Homo sapiens: one gene and its partners. The protein of the gene in region 3 purifies or fractionates together with the protein of the main gene of each other region. This does not show direct contact. Each region holds a gene or a part of one and is shown on either strand. Other genes may lie near its edges.

Region 1 (3,655 bases), on a different chromosome or scaffold from region 3:
TCCCCTGCTCAAACACCTTCAACAACTCCCTATAGCATATCAGACTGAATACATGTTACTCAAAACAAACCATAATGACGCCAACCCATTCCTTCTGTGCTAAGAGGCGAGAAAAGCTCAAGTCAAATGGGGCTGGTTCTAAGCTATCTGAGCTCCTTGGAACTCATGCCTAGCAACACTAAGGTCAGTACTTGGCAAATATTTCTTTAATTGAAATGACAAAAAAGTGAGGGAAGATGAGAAAGAAGAGGCAAAGATAATTTAAAACCCAAACCAGTAATGTAAGAATATTTGTAAGCTGGTATTGGGTGCAAACTTACAACCCTGCCTCGTCTTACTGTCCAGAGTCTCAAGTATACAATATGAGAACTGGGGCTAAATGGTGGTCACAGAACTATTTTGAGTGACTTTCTCCAAGTGGGCTTCAGGAAGGTGGCTCTAGTAACCTAAAAGAAAAATTTGCAATATCCAATATCTAGTTTCTGGGCACTATGTTTCTTTCAGGGTGTACTATTCCTTTCCAAAGCCACCTCACTTGCTAATTGTGTTTACTGAACTTGCAGGTGAGATAAAACACTTCCTGATAAAGGAACGAAGTTAAGCTCCAATGATCTGTACAAAAGTACTTCAAGAACCAAAGAAAATCACTTCTTGGGAAATGTGGAGAAAAGGTAGGGCTTAATGAAGCATGTATAATAGAAAGACTGGTAGGCATCAGGCAGTGGGCGCCATTTCAAGCTATAGTCGACACGGTAAATTCACATGTAGTGTTAATTTAGGCACTCCATGATGTGACTATCCTATCAGCCAATAAGCACTCAGAATTTGATAGGCTTAAGCTAATAGTAGCAGGGTGTGAAAACCCAAGAAATCTGGGTTTTAGCCCCAGCTCCCCTTAGTAGCTATGGGATTTTAGACAAGTCCTCTCCATGCTTCAGCAAGATGAGGAAACATCAGCCCTGCCTTCATCATCAGAACTGTGATACTAAAATGAGACCATGTGTTAAGAACTGGACCTCTTAAGTCACACAAGTCATGAAATGAGACATTGGTGTTTGATGTATAGTAAACATCTGATAAATATTAGCTACTCTTATTATGTTGGTATTATAGCACAGCAAGGACTGAAGCTCTAAAGATTGTGTTCTATATATTACAAAGCTCAGTGGGCTGTGAAAAATCATGTAAAGCCTGAAGCTCTCAGTTGGTCATGTTGGGGCAGGAATGGCATATTTGCAGGTTGGGAAATGTCTTCTAACAGTCGAGTGAAAGAAGAAAATACTCAGTGAAAGCTGTTAAATGTAGATAATTTCACAGGAGGAATGAGAAGACTAAGAACTAAAGACTCTAACCTACATGCCCAGCTGAATCGCTTTCTTCTCAAAAGGATGTAGCTGCAATTCTCCCTGAAATGACATCACGTGAACTTAAGTGGGTGACTGAATCATAAGCCTAGTGTGAGCATGAGGTGTGGCAGTGGGGAAATAGGTCATGCACATGAAATTTCATATTTAAAAGGTATTCAAACTTCCTAGGGAGAAAAAGGCAATCTTTTCCACAGACAGTGAAGTATGTCCTTTGGCATCGGCAAAATGATTAATCAATATCAATCAATATCCTATTATTTACATGTCCTTCTTCCTATCTCCTCCACTGAGCGAGTGCACACAAGTTGAGCAAATCTAACCACTCAGAGTGCCTCCACCCCTCATTTTCATAAAAAGTCTTAGTACTTTTCCATGGGGCCCTTACTGTATTCCCTTTTCAATCCAGAAATAATAAGCTTTGTTTTTGGACTTTAAGACAGTTCACTATTTACCACAAAACAACCCAGCCCCACACATGCAAATTCTGGCATCTTGTTTGTTGAGCCACCGTATAGGCAAGAGATCAAAAGCTGTTTAAAAACATCTGCTTTGGTTTTTCAGAAACCTGACAAACTTATTGTATAATTTATTGGGAAGAACTTTATGACTTCGAATGAAAAGGAACTTCTTAAGACTCAAAAAGACCAACCTCTTAATTTAAAAAAAAAAAACACAATGAATTTGATTACATAAAAACCAAGGATTTCTGTTAAACGAAAGTCACCATAGACAAAAATAATAGACGATGGGTTGGGGGAGATTCTTCAATGTCTAAAGCTAATTTGTTTTCTTATTGATTTGTGTTAGTTCCTTGTACATTCCAGAATGTAATATACAATGTGAATTAAAAATACCTATAGACTAGAGTTTACAACAAAATGTATAAATATATGGATATATGTGAAAAAGGCGGTCTATGGAAACAAGAGAATTGTGAATAGAAAATACAGATAAAAAGGAATATATAATAAAACACAGGAATTTTGCAGCCTGAATAAAAAACTCCTATGCAACTGAGGCCCTTAAAAATCCATTACTTGGGCTGGGTGTGGTGGTTCACACTTGTAATCCCAACACTTTGGGAGACCAAAGTAGGTGGATCACTGAGTCCACGAGTTCGAAAACAGCCTGGGCAACACAGTGGCCTCATCTCTACAAAAAAAAAAAACAAAAATTAGCCAAGCCTGGTAGTATGCACCTGTAGTCCCAGCTACTAGTAAGGCTGAGGCAAGAAAACTGCTTGAGCCTGGGAAGTCGAGGCTGCAGTGAACCGTGATCACGCCACTGCCCTCAGCTTGGGCAACAGAGTGAGACTGTCTCAAGAAAAAGGGGGAAAAAAAAAAACATAGTTTCCTCAACTACTTGCTTATTTTTCCTTTAGAGGATAATGTAAGATTTCCCATTTAGAGAAACTAAGAAGTCTTCCTTCAGAAAATCTGTTGGTATTAAGTGTTCACTATTTTTAGCCTTCTGTATTCCTCCAGTTTTTCCAGTAGGAGGTCATTTTTCACTGGGCTTTAATTACCATTCTAATTCACCAGTTTCCAATTACTATCAGAACTTGCTCAAAAGAATAAGTCACCTTGACAATTCCTTCCCCTGGCAGAGTGGGGATCTACTGAAATGTCACTCTTCCATGAAGAACAACAAAATTGTATTTATCTGTATTCAGTTCATTAGGTCTAGAACATTCTGTATACTTAACTACTGACTAGTCAAGTTCTAAATAAAGCAGATTCTTTCTGATTATCTTTCACAGTAAATATAAGAATATAGTTTTGCAGTTCCTTTACTTAGCTGACTAGTTATAACACTATTTCAGAAATATTTTTATGTTTAATGTATATATGTAAATAACCGCAGTGCAGAGGAGAGTCCCAAGGAACATCCTTGGCTAGTGAGCCTAAGAGATCACACAGTATTTTCTCCAGTTTTGAGTGGATTTAGCCAATATATTTTGTGGGGTTTTTTTCCGTGCCCTTAACATCTTATTTTCTAGCTAACAATATTCTGATTCACAGCAAGTGTTCCAAAGAATAAACATAGGTATAAGTGGTTAAAGCCCTAGTCAGATTTGGAGGGGGGTAGACCAGCTAGTACCACCTTTAAGAACTAGCCTAAAGAATGACAAGATGAAGGCCTAAACAAATAAATTCCTAATATGTGCATGTAAGTTATAAATTGCAGTGTCAAGAACACATCTGCTCTGAAGGTAAAATGACCCCAAATAGATCTGACTTACTTAGGACCCCTCTTTCCACTGTGCTAAATGGGGAACACATACAGCA
Region 2 (3,655 bases), on a different chromosome or scaffold from region 3:
GAAACTGAAATAAAAGAGGATCTTAACCTAGGACACCCAGCAGCCAGTGAAGGAACCATGATCTGAACGCAAGTCTTTCAGGCTCAAAAACATGGGCTCAGGACACTGCACTACACACTGCCTCCAAAATCTCCAATTTATGCCAGGTGCTGTTGTAAGAATTTTCTTGCTATGTTGGGACTTTCCCATTAAAAATTCAATTATCTGTAATTTTTTAAAATAAACTATTTGTTCTGCTCAAAATTTCTAGTTAACCCACAGTGCTTTCCCTGTTAAGAGAACGTTTTAGCATAGCATGTCTGCCCTTTCTCAATTCAGTTTTCTTAATTTGCCTCACTGACTATCTCATCCTACCTGATTGGTCAAGCCTTCTCTCCAACCATGAGGGCTAAGACGAAACCCCTCAGCCATGTGCCCTTACACAAGTTACTGAATCCATCTAAACCTCAGTTCCCTCATCTGTAAAATGGGCATAATACCATAAAATGGTGACAACTGAATTCATGCAAAATGTTCACAACACCTAATACACAGTAAGCGTTTTAACAAATGATCATTCTTATCTTAGTATTGTTTTGTCATTATTAAGTACACCATGGAATGCTGGCCAGCTGAAGAAATAAAAAGAGACTGGAGGTATAATTTCAAATTTCAAATTTCTTCAATTTGTTTTTCAGCTACTAATAAAGTATAGATGGGGTCTGGAAAATAATCTCCCTGCATCAATGTCAAGCTGCTTGTGTGCACTAAATTGCTGACTCCAACTAAAAGGCTGAGTCAGTGAGTACTCCTCTAATACTTGTTCTCACAATAAAATCTGTACTGTACTACGATCTTTACTGTTGAGATATGACTGTAAAGAATTTTAAGTCAGTAATCATGAAATGTTTTAAAAGACTTTAATAAACTCTCCTTTCTCAATCTTTACCCAAGAGAAAAAGACAATTCTAGAGAATGTACAAATGCAATGCCATGACCGTATTCTCAAAAACATGTTTAAATATTTATTTTCAAAAATATCAAAACTGTGATATTAAATAAGAGATTTCCCTGCTACACCTATCCCTAAAGGGCATCTGTATGAATTTTCTAGATGGCATTCTGGTCAAAATAAGCAAAATACTGACCCTAACTGTGGGGCCTTGTAAGTCAGTCTGGCACTGAAAGCTATTAGGTCTTTGAAAAGGTGCCTACGATATATAATCTTGTTAGGAAAATAGTACAAAAGAGCTGAAAACAAATACACAGACCTGTGTTAATTTCTAACAAGCAGAAGTAACTTTCTAAGAAGAGCTGCCTTGTCAAATGGCCATGAAGTATGCCTGGGCTCTTCTATAATGGTTTAATGGGCTTCAAAAGTGGCAAAAATATTGATGAATTTAGCAGAAGTAAATATTAGTGCACATTAACAACTTGCCCAACTTACTAGCTCAGTATGTATGTCCCCAGATTTTTTTTTAAGTAAACAAAAATGCTTGGTTATACTCATCCAAAGTAAGCAGTCAAGAGACTTATTTTTGGTTCAAACAGTAACTAAAACTCATAATTCACTAAAGACTGAAGTGTAAGTAACACAATTTGGCAGTGCATGATAGAAAGTAATCTTCAATTAAAAGTTTATTGCAGAGTACAAAAATATAAAAAGAGTTAAAATGTGTGAAAAAATGGATATACTTGAAAAAGCTCAAATATTTCTACTAGGATACAATTCTGCTTCTATGCTTAATCAGTTCCTTAGAATTTATCAGAAAACGCAAAACCAAAGCTATAATATCTAAGCAAAACAACCTTTGGTTTTGAACCGCCCATTTTTCAGCTTTGTATAAATGTATATCCATTAGGTCGGGCACGGTGGCTCATGCCTGTAATCCCAGCACTTTGCAAGGCCGAGGTGGGCAGATTACTTGAGGTCAGGAGTTCGAGACCAGCATGGACAACATGGTGAAACCCAACCTCTACTAAAAATACAAAAAATTACCCTGGTGTGGTGGCATGTGCCTGTAATCCCAGCTACTCGGGAGGCCGAGGCAGGAGAATCACTTGAACCTGAGAAGCAGAGGCTGCAGTAAGCCATGATCACACCACTGCACTCCAGCCTGGGCAACAAAGTGAGACTCCTTCTCAAAAACAAACAAAAAAAATTTATACCTGTTAAATACTGGTTTTGAGAATTAGCACTCAGACAGAACCTGCAACTATCATAGCAACAGTGAACGGACTGGCCTTATCATAAATCTATCGAGTAGTAAAAGTTTAGGGGAAATAGGGGATAGGCCAGAAATGAGTGGGCTTGGATGTGAACTAGAAATGACCCCTGACTGCCTTGAGACCTTGACCCTTGAGTTAGGAGCTTTGAAGCACACATTACTAGATGTATACATTTGCATGAGGGCCTAAGAAAAGAATACTTTTCAAGTGTGTGGAGAGGAAGAATGGAAGTCACCAAATTCTGTGGGGAGATCATCCTAGGATGGAAAATAATTAAGGCCTACCTTTCCACCATCATTTTCTAAAGGATCATTGAGTGACATCTCAGTCATTCTGATCTGGACACTGCATATGCATGCTTCCACTGCAAGTGTTCCTCCATTTTGTCTTTTTCAGATTACATAAAACAGAGCTTCAACTACCCTCTGCCCCCTGCCCTCAGCCACCTCTACCCCATCCAGCCCAACCAAATAAACATACAATTTGAGGGAAAGCAGTGTGCTTGCTATGCAAACTCAGCTTCAACACAAATGCCCTAACTCCTAACTGAGCAGCTATGTATAAACATCCTAGAGCCCGCCCCTGTGCCCACTCCTACCTTCCTACCCCTCACCTACCACGTATGGAAGAATGGGACTTCCTAAAGGGACAGAAATATAGTATGGGATCATATATGGTCAGAAGTTCATATCCTCTGACCAACATGTTCAGCGGATTAAGAAATCATAGAATTGGCCATGGACGGTGGCTCACGCCTGTAATCCCAGCACTTTGGGAGACCAAGGCAAGCGGATCACCTGAGGTCAGGAGTTCGAGAAGAGCCTGGCCAACATGGTGAAACCCCATCCCTACAAAAAATACAAAAATTAGCAGGGCATGGTGGTTGGTGCCTCTAATGCCAGCTACTTGGGAGGCTGAGACAGGAGAATTCCTTGAACCCAGGAGGCGGAGGCTGCAGTGAGCCGAGATCATGCTACTGCACTCCAGCCTGTGTGACAAAGCAAGACTCCATCTCAAAAAAATTAAAATAAAATAAAATAAAATAAGAAAAGAAAAAAAGGAAAGAAATCCTTGAATTATGTCTCTCAATGTTTGAGGGAAAACACAGTAACTAGTGAAGGCAAGATGTTTCCAAGACAAAGAGTGAAAAATACGGAAAGCAAGTTTCTCACCTGAGGGGTTCGGGAGGAGCTGGGACTGCTGGAGGCCGAGGAGACCATGCTCACATTGGGATTCATGCTCCGCTCCCTCTCATCCTGGTAGATGCGATCTCGCTCCACTTCTGGCAGATTGAGGAAATTCTGCATGGCCCTCAGGTTTACTAGAAGAGACTGAGAGGCTGTCCGAGGGTCTTCTTCCTTACGCAGAATCTCAGACAACAATCCCTGATTAAATGGGGGAAAAAAACAGACCAAGTCACATTTGCAGGTATATGTGTGTGGTTTCT
Region 3 (3,655 bases):
TTTCCAGGTGCCGTCTGTCACCCCTTTCTTTGACTCGGAAAGGGAACTCCCTGACCCCTTGCGCTTCCCGAGTGAGGCAATGCCTCGCCCTGCTTCGGCTTGCATGTGGTGCGGGCACCCACTGACCTGCGCCCACTGTTTGGCACTCCCTAGTGAGATGAACCCGGTACCTCAGATGGAAATGCAGAAATCACCCATCTTCTGCGTCGCTCATGCTGGGAGCTGTAGACCAGAGCTGTTCCTATTCGGCCATCTTGGCTCCTCCCTCTTTAATACATTTTAAACCTAAGTAGTTTGTATTTATTCCTCCTTTGATTTCTCTCTCCTTCTTAGTAAAAAGATATCTAGATATTTATAGGAAGAAATTATTTTCAACTTTTTCTCACGTACCCTAAATTCTATATATGTGAATCCTTTAATCCTTCATCATATTAATCCTTTAAACACTTTCTCATTTGTGCTGGTTAGCCGGCTAGCTTTGCAAGCACAAAGTGGAGACAATGTGAACACATACAGAGCTACAACATAGTCCTTTTTGCGTCTCATATTTCCCTGCCTTACCTCTTCTCTAAGTCCAGAAACAGCTGGGGCTGGGACAGAAACTGTTAATTACCAATCCAATATCCATTTCCACTTCTTCCTCGCTATGAGAGCCCCAGTTTTATTCAGGCAGCAATATTAACCAGACAACTCATCATGATTGTTACGACGATCTTCTCCCCTCACTTTCCCAGCCTCTTTTTACATATAGAGGTGACTCAGTGAGAAATCTACAAGAGGACTACAGGCAACAAAAAGGAAATCCACAGATGGGAGGAGGCAGATATTATGAATAAAAGTACACTTTCCTGATAAAAGATATAGCTGGCCCTTTTTCTTCACACTGACTTGAGCACAGAATGAATCCGATGTCTGAAAATGTGCATGCCCTAGGTCTCTCTGTCATCACTGAGACCTGAGTGACCCAGTGCCAGCAACCACCTACTCAGGTCTTGTTATATGAGAGAAATAAACCTCTTTTTGTTTAAGCTACTGTTCTTTGGATACTCAGTTATCTGCAGCAGTAAGCTTTCCTAACCGATTGGCCAACCTTTCCTGATAATTCCAAATAGGGGTTAAGCTGTCCTGTAACAGAATGAATGAAATGTGATCAGACACTACAGGGCCAGTTCCATTCTATGACCCACCATGACAAACTAGAAGGTAGTATAAGAATGCCAAATCTGGCATATATATCGGAGAGCATTCATATTTTTTATTCTACTTGGCCCTATCACCAGACCTCAAAATCCATTCCATGTGTGAGCCAGATGATCACTCATTTTAAGCCTTGTGGAGAATGGAATAAAAAACCAAATACAATATAAAGTTCAACCCCTATTCTCAAATGACCTTCATAAGAGCTCCTTGTGAACTATGCAACGTAATTCCAACAAAGGAGCTAAAATATTACCTCTTCATTTTCCAACCTGCCTCTGATGTAAATACCAACATGCACATTGGCAGAAAAAGATATGAAGGAGAAATAAGTAAATATGGGGGATTCAAAAAGTAAATAATTAAGGCTCTATGCAAAGACAAAAAACATAAGACTCTCCACAAATTCATTTGGAAAATGCAGACAAGTCACCTGCTAGTCTTCTGTATGTATGCTGATATCACCCAATTCATTGATAAGGTTTTTACACTGCTCTGAACTGTAATACTGGTAATAAAATAACATGCAACAGTTTCCTCCTTAAGAAGACATCCTAAACTCTGTTTTGTATGTGGTGCAAAGAAAGCAGAAATCCATTACAGTGAACTGAACTGCTGTTATAAAAATAATCTTAATCTTTGAATTCTTTACCCAAATTCCCCAGGACCTTTGTAAGAGCTATTTGAACATTAGCTATTTATGACATAACTGGCTATTTAATACCTACTTGGCTTGTTAGTCGAAGGCTAGTCATTGGCATTTTAAAGAGTACTTGGACAATTTGAGTGAACCAGTCTTTACCAGCTTTAATCTCAAATATATTTTCATGTTCAAATTTCCAGTAGTCTCAATGTTTATTCTTCTGTTCTTTTTTTTAACCATTTATTTAAGTCAAGATCCAAATAAGTTAATCACACAGCAATTGATCAATAAGGCTTTTAAATCTGTTTTAATCCAAAGGTTCCCCTTCCAACTATTTTTTAATCTTACAATTTATTTGTTACAGAAACCAAGTTGTTTGTTCTGTTATTTCCCACAGTTTGGATTCTGCTAATTGCATTTTCTAGAGCAGTTTGATGTGTTCCTCTCTTCTCTAGCTAGGTTGTAAATTGGTGGCTGGATCTGAAGCCTTGATCACATTCAAATTTGATTGTTCTTCCATCAGAAAGTACCCCAGTGACTCGTCATCTTTTTGTGATGTTAAATGCCTAGATCCATTAGATTGTCAGAGTTTGTAATTTGGTGATATTCTATCATTCCTTATTCATTTACTACTGGGATACATTTATAAAAAGACCAATTTAGGCCAGGCGCAGTGGCTCACACCTGTAATCCCGGCACTTTGGGAGGCCAAGGCAGGCGGATCACAAGGTCAGGAGTTCAAGAGCAGTCTGGCCAATAAGGTGAAACACTGTCTCTACTAAAAATACAAAAATTAGCTAGGCCTGGTGGTAGGGCGCCTGTAATCCCAGCTACTCAGGAGGCTGAGACAGGAGAATCGCTTGAACCCGGGAGGCGGAGGTTGCAGTGAGCTGAGATCCTGCCACTGAACTCCAACCTGGGCGACAGAGAGAGACTCCATCTCAAAAAAAAAAAAAAAAAAAAAGCCAGGCACAGTGGCTCACGCCTATAATCCCAGCACTTTGGGAGGCCAAGGTGGGCAGATCACTTGAGGCCAGAAGTTCAATACCAGCTTGGCCAACATGGTGAAACCCTGTCTCTACTAAAAATAGAATAATTAGCCAGGTGTGGTGGTGCATACCTGTAGTCTCAGCTACTCGGGAGGCTGAGGCAGGAGAATCGCTTGAACCCAAGAGGTGGAGATTGCCATGAGCCCAGATCGTGCCACTGCACTCCAGCCCGGCAACAGAGCAAGACTCCATCTCAAAAAAAAAAAAAAGGCAAGGGGGAGGGGTGGTAAATGTTAACCTATGTGTAAATGTTTCATGCTGTATATAAGTTACAAAAGTAAAACATTATAATAGAAAATAAAATCTCATACCTTTCAGCACTAAATGCAGACTCTGTGTCAATGTACACCACAGCTCCTTCTAATCCTCCCATGTTGGTGGGTAATGTAGCCAAAATGCTCATCATTATACAAAACTGAGTTTTTCCACAACCTGGTGGACCTGTAATCTAAAAAAAAAAAAAAAAAAAAAAAAAAAAAAAAAAAAAAAGTTTTTTAGATAAACATCACAAGCCAGTCAAAGCAAAATCCTTTTAAGACTTTGCCATATATGCAGTCCAACTAACCTGGGTTCCCAGGAGAGAATTAAGCCCAAGACATCCATTGTATGGAATGAATTAACTTCTCCCCTCTGCATCTGAATTGGCACTAGTTATGTACCATCCTTGGAGGAATTGAGAAAATAGTCACTCAAATCATCCACTGTATTTTGTAGTTCAGATGAGAAACTTCTAGTTGAGAAAGGCTGAAACATTCACTCATTTATA

The links.
Region 1: the proteins of RAD51B (region 3) and MTR purify together in Homo sapiens (affinity purification with mass spectrometry; one large-scale study listed by BioGRID and IntAct). This does not show direct contact.
Region 2: the proteins of RAD51B (region 3) and SATB2 purify together in Homo sapiens (affinity purification with mass spectrometry; one large-scale study listed by BioGRID and IntAct). This does not show direct contact.

What each region holds. Positions count from the first base shown.
Region 1 is NC_000001.11:236,798,175-236,801,829, reverse strand, and holds part of MTR (methionine synthase), read right to left. Parts: intron 1-3,655. UniProt on the Homo sapiens protein: Catalyzes the transfer of a methyl group from methylcob(III)alamin (MeCbl) to homocysteine, yielding enzyme-bound cob(I)alamin and methionine in the cytosol. MeCbl is an active form of cobalamin (vitamin B12) used as a cofactor for methionine biosynthesis.
Region 2 is NC_000002.12:199,325,318-199,328,972, forward strand, and holds part of SATB2 (DNA-binding protein SATB2), read right to left. Parts: intron 3,594-3,655; coding exon 3,381-3,593; intron 1-3,380. UniProt on the Homo sapiens protein: Binds to DNA, at nuclear matrix- or scaffold-associated regions. Thought to recognize the sugar-phosphate structure of double-stranded DNA.
Region 3 is NC_000014.9:67,864,685-67,868,339, reverse strand, and holds part of RAD51B (DNA repair protein RAD51 homolog 2), read right to left. Parts: intron 3,553-3,655; exon of another isoform or gene 3,455-3,552; intron 3,338-3,454; coding exon 3,201-3,337; intron 1-3,200. UniProt on the Homo sapiens protein: Involved in the homologous recombination repair (HRR) pathway of double-stranded DNA breaks arising during DNA replication or induced by DNA-damaging agents. May promote the assembly of presynaptic RAD51 nucleoprotein filaments.